Linked DNA regions of Homo sapiens. The protein of the gene in region 2 purifies or fractionates together with the protein of the main gene of each other region. This does not show direct contact. Each region holds a gene or a part of one and is shown on either strand. Other genes may lie near its edges.

What was found.
Region 1: the proteins of ARHGAP5 (region 2) and DOCK3 purify together in Homo sapiens (affinity purification with western blotting; one study listed by BioGRID and IntAct). This does not show direct contact.

What each region holds. Positions count from the first base shown.
Region 1 is NC_000003.12:50,673,645-50,677,977, reverse strand, and holds the start of DOCK3 (dedicator of cytokinesis protein 3), read right to left. Parts: upstream 3,052-4,333; 5' UTR 2,715-3,051; coding exon 2,678-2,714; intron 1-2,677. UniProt on the Homo sapiens protein: Potential guanine nucleotide exchange factor (GEF). GEF proteins activate some small GTPases by exchanging bound GDP for free GTP.
Region 2 is NC_000014.9:32,090,624-32,094,442, reverse strand, and holds part of ARHGAP5 (rho GTPase-activating protein 5), read right to left. Parts: 5' UTR 3,774-3,819; coding exon 57-3,773; intron 1-56. UniProt on the Homo sapiens protein: GTPase-activating protein for Rho family members.

The DNA.
Region 1 (4,333 bases), on a different chromosome or scaffold from region 2:
TCCCAGGCACACTGACAGGCCTATCACTGACCCTCAGAAAGGATAATGTCCTCCCCACTGCCTAAAATCACTCACAGAATATTACAATGGAAAGGGGGGCTCAGTCATCACCTCATCCTAAATGAATAAACCAAACAATTCAGTCATGTTATAACCTGTACAGAATTCCTATATTATAAAAAATTTAATAAGTATTACTACAGGATCTCAAAGCCTTATCAATGTCAAATACAAATGAACAGCTGCAGTGGAAAAAACCCTTTGTACTGCTGCAACAGGGGACTCCTTCCCTCACTAACATCAGGGCAAAAGGAGGCCCTCGAGGCCCTCCTCCACAAATTTCTCCAAATTGGTAGGAAGTAAGTGTAAGGGGTTTCCCTCCTTGCTATGTGATTATAGGTTGACAAACAAAGACACAAATCTGTGCTCCAAGTTAGTCATAAAAATCAAAGCTGAAACTCAAACATTTTCTCACAGGAAAATGATAATGGTTATATTTTCAAGCTAGCCCTCATAGCAATCAAATGATGCAGCAAAAATGCCGTTTTAATTGACTATTTTTCTCATAAGTATAATGTATAAGCTACTTTATAAAGTGGATTTTATGAAAAGTTCTAGAAGTGTAGCCCTAACATCCTTATGAAAAAAAATGTGTCCTGAGTTTTAAACAATTTACACAAAAACTTTTAGATCATAACTAAGGAAGGGACAGTGGAAGACTGTGAGATAAATAGAGAGTTGCTTGGTTTGGTAGAAAAGGCATCTAAGTTATGCTAAACCACAGCTGCTATGAAAATGTCTTCAGTGTAACTGTCTCTCTCATTTAGCAAGCATTAAGCTCTGCCCTGAGCCCAATGCTGTGGCCCTCCAAAGGGAATAACAATTTTTCTAAAGCTAAAAACACAATCCTAGGAATGCAAGAATTTCGTTGCATCTTGCTGGGAAAATCACACACCAAATCCTAGTGCTTTGAGATTCACATGTACCTATCTTGATTACCTTGCACTGGCTCTGTCTCAGAACACACTTAGTGTTATTAGTCTAAATACTAAGGGAAAAGAAGAAACTATTAAGCATTCAGCACGTTCTCATTTCACTTTCACAATCCTGTAAGATAGGTAAACATTATCCCCAATTTATACATTAATAAAATGACGTTAAATGATGTTAAATTACTTGCCCACACCACCAGTAAAGAGAAGCTAGGACTCTGAATTCCACTTTGTCCACTATTCAAGGGCTCCTCCCCCCACGCCCCCACCCCCGCCAAAATAGGGCTCCTCCCCCCTCCAAAAAAATCAATCATGGGGTGCCACTGGAGAGTTGACCACTCACATCAATTATTTGTTATTCTAGTTCAGCAGTTCTGGGAGCGAGTTATGGAGAAGATAAACCACCAACTCCTCACTTCACAGAATCAACTCAGTATTCAGGGAATACTCTAAGAGAAGGGGTAAAATGTCCCTAGAGGTGAATCCCAGCTCTTCGCATCATTTCTCAATTCCTTCTCAATAGAGACTCTAGGACCAGAGCTCCCTTTATCACCTCCATCCTAACATACCTAATTGTTTCAGAAAGTTACCTTTTAAAACAAGATCTTCTACCAGAATAGAAGACCTCTCTGCTGGTCCTCGAATTTAAATAAATTCAATTTTCACACGATAACCTGCCTGATAGCATTCCAAAACATTCGTTACCACTGCAGTTTCAAGTTATTTTGTAGTGAATTGTGAACTAAATCTTGATTAAATTGCGGTAAAGATGGGAAACAAAAATCTATGTTTAGACAGGTTTCCTATCTAAAATTTTCCATTACGAGCTTAGGAAAAACAAAACCTGTACACTCAACATTTTAAATCTGTTTCTAACTGAACAAGATGATAGGTGATGCAATGAGGCTTAACTCTATCATGTAATTGCCACAAAACACTAACATTGTAAAACATTCAATACTTTAAATTACTGAATATTCTTTTTAAAGAAGTTGAATATTGTAAGAATTATTTAGCTTCTGGAGTTTAACACTTACAACATTAAAAAAAGGTTTCTAAGAGGAATAAGGTCTCATCTGAAAACAGGGTTTAAAAAAAAAACCGTATAAACATTGATACATGTCCAAAAACATTTCCCATCGTAAGGTATTATTTCTAATACTAAAGGCAAAACAAATTAAAACAGATCAAACATTTGCAGTCAAATGTCCAAATTTTTGAACTGGGAAAATGATGTCAACGTTTTTCATCCGTTTTCTTGTAAGGTTCCAGATCAAAAATAAACAGCCATCGGGCTCATCAATTCAGGTGCGGAAACTCATTAAAATCGAGCTTTTGGAGGGGAGAAAACATATTCCCAGAATTTGGTTTATCGGGTAAAATTGCCCCGTGGCCCACACCAGAAACCTCGGGCAACTGCCCGGGCCTTGCCCACCCCTCCCGCGGGCCGCACCTGCCAAGGCCGCACCGCCAGCGCCCCCTGCCGCCCTCTCTGCACAGAGACCCGCGCCCACCCCCGCACCCGCACCCGCACCCGCACCTGCCCCCACCCCGCGCTCGCCCCGCGCCGAGGCCGCGCAGCCTGCGGGCAGTGGCGGGGGCACGAGGATGCGAATCCAGGCGGGGCCGGGAGCTGGGCGCGTCCCCCAGAACCCCCGCCACGGCCAGGCCTGAGCCTCACCTACCTACGCCGTATTTCTCCTCCTCCGTGGGGGTCCACATGGCCGTGCCGGGCGCGGCCCCGCGGGCGCGGCGACCGGGCGACAACGCGGCGGGGACGGCCGCGGGCCCGGCTGTGGCGCACCGCGAGTCGAGGCGGGGACGGTCAGGCGGCGCGGGGCAGTGGGCGGCGCATCCCTCACAGGCCGTCCGGGATGCCGCCGCCACCCCCGCCACGTCTGGACCGCGAGGCTCCGCGGGTGGCCCAGCAGCCCCTGGCGGCGCGGGCGAAGGCTCGCCACCTGTCCGTCGCCGCTGCTCCCGTGCCGCCGCTTGCTTCTTCACAGCTCCGCCGCCCGGCTCCCGGCGCCGCCGCGGCTCGGCTCGCCCCAGCGGGCTCGCAGGACGCCCGCGCATGCGCCACTCCCTGCCGCGCAGGGGCTCGCGCTGCCCGGGCTCGCGCCGTCCCGAGCCCGCGCGCGAATCCACGCGCCGCTGCTGCGCGCCAGCGGAGGGAAATCCGCGAGAAGCTATTGGACTGCCCGGCCCCGGACCGGCTTCTAGAATCGCTGGTCCGGGGCCCTCAGCTGCAGCAAACCCCGGAGGGGGCGAAGCCGGTCAGGTGGGCGACTCCCTCTACCCGGACTCCCCACTCGCTTCCGCTTCCAGTGCCTCCTGCCTGCGCCCCGAGATGGCCACAGGCCTCCTGGTCGGAGAGGGGAGATCCAGAAAAGGAGGACACGACACCATTTTCAGACCCATCCCAGTGTCACCCACAGTGCTGTCGGAAAGGTCCCCGGAGCCACCCTGTGCATTCCCAGGGCCCGCAGGATGGAGTCGCCACGAGGGAACCAGGTGGGGTGCACTCGTGCCCCTCTCTCCTGGATCCCCTGTGGGCTGAGGCCGCTGACACCTCCTGGGTTCTTGCTTCTCTGAGATGGCCTGAGTGGTGAATGTTTGGGGCCAGAACAATCAACAGCCGCCTTGCTAGTAAGGAAGAGCTTCATTGGGCCCTTCGTGTTCCTACCCAGGACACGGCATCTGCTGCTCCTGGGTGTCTGCCTCCCTTGGAGCCCTAAGAACTGGCTCCTACCGGAAACTTTCCTCCTCTCTCTCCTCCCTAAGAATCCATTCATTCTGATGCCTGTAAATGTCACCTTGTGACCCCCAAGTCAACCACTTACCAAAGAACAGGAACTGCAGGACTTCTCCTTTCCACCTACATTTGGACCACATGCTCTAATCCCAGCAGATTTGCCCATCTCTGTCACTAGCACTACTAAGTCAAAACCCTGGTGTCATCCTTCACTAGCACTCTCAGACACCACCACTCTTCAAAGCCCAGCTCAGCCCCTCACCTCCAGGAAGCCTGCCCTGACCCATAGTCTCCTTTCCTTCTTTGTCTGGAATTGGAGCTATGTTCGGTTTGTCTTATTTCCCTTATAAGACTGTCAGCTCCCAGAAGGCAAGCTCCAGGCTAAAATCAACTTTCTAAACCCTCACCACCAACCCAGCACCTGTTGTATAGTTGTTGCATGGGAAGCCAGACTAATAGAAGAATATCTTGCAATCAACAGATCTTGTTGATTCTTCGTTCAAAGTGTCATGATTGGTAACTCCTCCCAGGCCTGACTGTGCTCCCCTGGGTTATGGCCACCCCTTCCCACCTTCGGACCTTTAGG
Region 2 (3,819 bases):
TAAAAAAGTAACAACAAGCATTTTTATAAACATCACTGACCTTAAGTTAACCTTACCTTTTTATCTTCTTTCACTTTGTGGGTTTTCTTCTTCATCTTCTTATCATCTAACTCCTGGTCAGAAGTGATTGCAGGATTATCAATACCACCTTTCCAAGTTTCAACAGGAGAAAGAAGTGGATCTTCTTCACTTCCACGATGTCTTCCTTTTCTTTTTGTTTTAGAAGTGGTGAAAGCCTCATCATCACTGGCATCTGAATGTGTTCTTCTATAGTATGACTTGGCTTTACTAAACAAGGTTTTAGATTTATATTTGTATTTTGAAGGCCTCCGTTCCCCATGACTTTTTGAGGTTCTATCAGAAAACCCATTTTCTTCATCTCCTTGGGTGTTATTTACAAATGAGTTTCGAATTTTAATACGATTTTGACTATCATCTGGGACAACATAAATCTCATCAGAATAGCCCTTCTGTTTGAAAATTGTATCAATGGGTTCCGCATAGTTATCTGAAGGATCCATATCTTCAGGATGTGCCAAAGGCACCCGGGAAGTCTGCTTTCTTGGATTTTTACCAATACCAGCTTCAATTGTTTTTAAAAGGTTTGGATCGAGTTTTTTCACATTTGTCTTAGGTACAACTGGTTTAGGTTTAATAGGTGGAGGCACTTTATGGTTGCGTTCATGGTCATGACAGTTTGGGGTACTATGAATAGGATACTCATTTCCTTCCAAATCTAATCTATATCTGGAACGGTCACTAGGTGTTGGAAGCAACTGTACATCATCCCCAATTGGACTATAAGGAGGTGGTGCTTCTGTGTCATCATCTGAATCAGGGTAGTTATTATAGGGAAAACAGTCTCTGGGAGATGGTAGAAAAACATCTTCACTTTGATGGGTTGATTCCCTTGTATTATCAGACAAATAAGAATTTTCTATCATATTTTTTTTCTCTAGAACATCACTAAAAAACAGAGTAAAGACCTCAGTTTGCCGATGATACTGAGATAAAGAATACAGTGCTGTAAATTTAGCAGTGATCTCAGTTGCAATGTGTTCTCCTTCAGTCATTAACTCTTTGATAGCCTCATTTTCAAAAAAATCTGCTTGGCTGTCAGTAACTGCCACCAGCTGTACAGGAATGGTGTCTTGAACTTCTGATAGAAATGCTCGAAGCATTCCCATCGAAGCTTTCCGTTTTGCAGAGTAAACTAATATATACCCATGAACTAGTTCATCTTTTCTTACTCCAATTGAAGAGTGGTATGATAATATTGTGATCTGTATTCGCCTCCTTTTTTCACCAATGATTTTATCAAGCATTAGGGAATTATTCTGTCCAGCTTGAGCAGCACTGCAAGAATGAGAATCAAGGAAGGGTGAAAGAATAAGATCCACACTAAATGGATCTCCACACATGGCGCACATGACAATTCTCAAGTCAGCTTCTGATAAGTCCTTATTGGCAGGAATTGGGCTCACCACATCCAAATTGTGTTTAACTGATTCCAATACTCCTCTGAGAGCTTGCTTTATTTGGGTTTCATTAAATTTACGAGGATATGTACCAGCAGGTACATCTACAAAAGGACATTGCAACTTGTTTGCCAACTGCTGCCCTTGGTGCCTGAGAATTGGTAGATTCTTACTAATGGAATCTCTCTGATTAGCCAGAATTAATGTAAATGGAAGATTAGCCATGTATTTATCTTTTCTGATCTGAGAAGCTTCAGTTCTTATTTTCCCAATAAATTCCCCAATAAAACTCAATGACTCAATGGAATTAAATACACAGAAGCACCCATGTGGTTTAAAGGCGGCAGTCCATAACTGACTCAAAAAGTAAGGCGATTTGGCATCAACCGGCCGAAGATCAAGTTCATAAATTTTTCCATCTAAGGCATACTCATCATCAGTGGATTGTGTCCTTATCTCATTTGCTAGTTCTTGGGCAAGGCCATCCTTCCCTAAAATAAAAAGGTTAACTTTATCTATATTGGTACTATCGTGATATAATCTTAAGCGGCCATGATCCAACTGTAAAAGACTACTAGCAAGTAACTGCTCCACTTTAATGTCTGTACAATTTTGGCCACTAAGACATGTTTCTTTAGTGGGATGATAAACAAATCCTATATGCTTAAGTAGAAGGGATTCCCTATCAGGTGCAAGTTTCTGTAAAGCTTTATATCTAGGTTCTTCACTCAGAACTGTATGAATTTCACTCATTTTATCTGAACTAGGTGTTGCATTAAGATCTAAATCATAAAAAAGTTCAGAATGCTCAAAAAGCATTTCTTGAAACTCTTCTTTGGCTTTTTCAACTATTTCTCGCTGATGCCTACCATATACCTCTTTGCTATCAGCCTCAGTGATATATTTGTAGGCTTCATCCTCCATAACAAAGCACATAACTTCCTCCCATGGCTGCCCTGGTGAAATGAATTGAATTTTTTCCAAAGTCTTTTTGAATTTTTCCTTCATTTCCACCCTCCTCTTCTCGGATATCAGATGCTGTACATGGTTCTGATAGACTTTTTCAGCTTCTAAAGTGCTCAGGAGGTCAAATGGAATCCGCCTATCATTAATTTTGTCTATATGGTCAGTTTCATCCCAAGGAGTTTTTTCTAGCACCACAAAACATAACTGGAAATCTGCTCTCTTTTCCATTAACTTCAAAGCTTCTGACCAATTCAAATGTTCAATCTCTTCTAGATTTGGCAAAAGAGTGTTAAAAGCTCTTGGTAAAGTATTTATATACTCTTCTCTCCTTTTTCTTATATGTTCCTGTTTAAGTTGTTCTATATGTTTTGAGAATGTATTTCTGGCCTTTCTTGTTCCCTCTAAGTTGATGTATTCTTCATAATCAGGATGATTTTTTAATTTATTACTAACAGTTTTCCAAGTTGCATGATAATCTCTCACAGTCTGCACAAGTTTTTCAAACTTATCTGTTGCTGTGACAACAAGTTGTCTCTGTGTTTTATAAGCATCCAAATAGGGAATAATTTTAGGCTTGCTACGAGTTTTATCCAACATTTGTACCAGTGCAGTAAAACATGTTTCAATGTTGACATTAAATCGTGCTGATGTTTCCACTACAAGAAGGTTCTTTTTATTTGAAGCAAATGCCTGAACTTCTCTAAGATAATGATCCACGCATTCATCACATTTAGTTGCTGCTATTATTACAGGTTTTTTTGATTTTGATAACTGGACAAAAAGGTTATTCACAAATTTAAGTTGATCATCAAACTTCCTATTGCATCCTTGACTTACATCAATGCATAATAAAAATCCATCTACGTTGAGCTTCCCTTCAGGCATTTGCTTCTGTTCAAAGTCTTGTTCTAAGCCTAGCTGATCAGTGCAAATGTACATTAGTTTTTCTGCTGACTGCAATTTAGATGCAGCTGCACGTTTTATATATGGTTGCAAATTCGTACTCCGATGAGGCAAGAAAGTCTGGTCATCAATGAACTCTGTTTGTTCAATGACATGAATTTTGCATTCTACTCCATCTTCACTATTTTGTATTATGTCACCCCAGTACAAAAAGTGATCATTGTTTACTACTCGTCCTCCAAAGTCAATGGTGCTAAGCACAGAAGTATGCTCTGGATAATATTCATCTGCTTTTGAGCGTACAAATCTATTGCACAAACAAGACTTTCCAACTCCACAGTTACCTTTGTCTTTTTCAGTCCCAGAGAGTCCAACTATACTGATGGTATAGGATGGGGGACGAGGCTCTTTGTTTTTTGCCATCATAACTCTCTTCTCATGTCTCTACATTCATAAAGGTAACCAGATATGC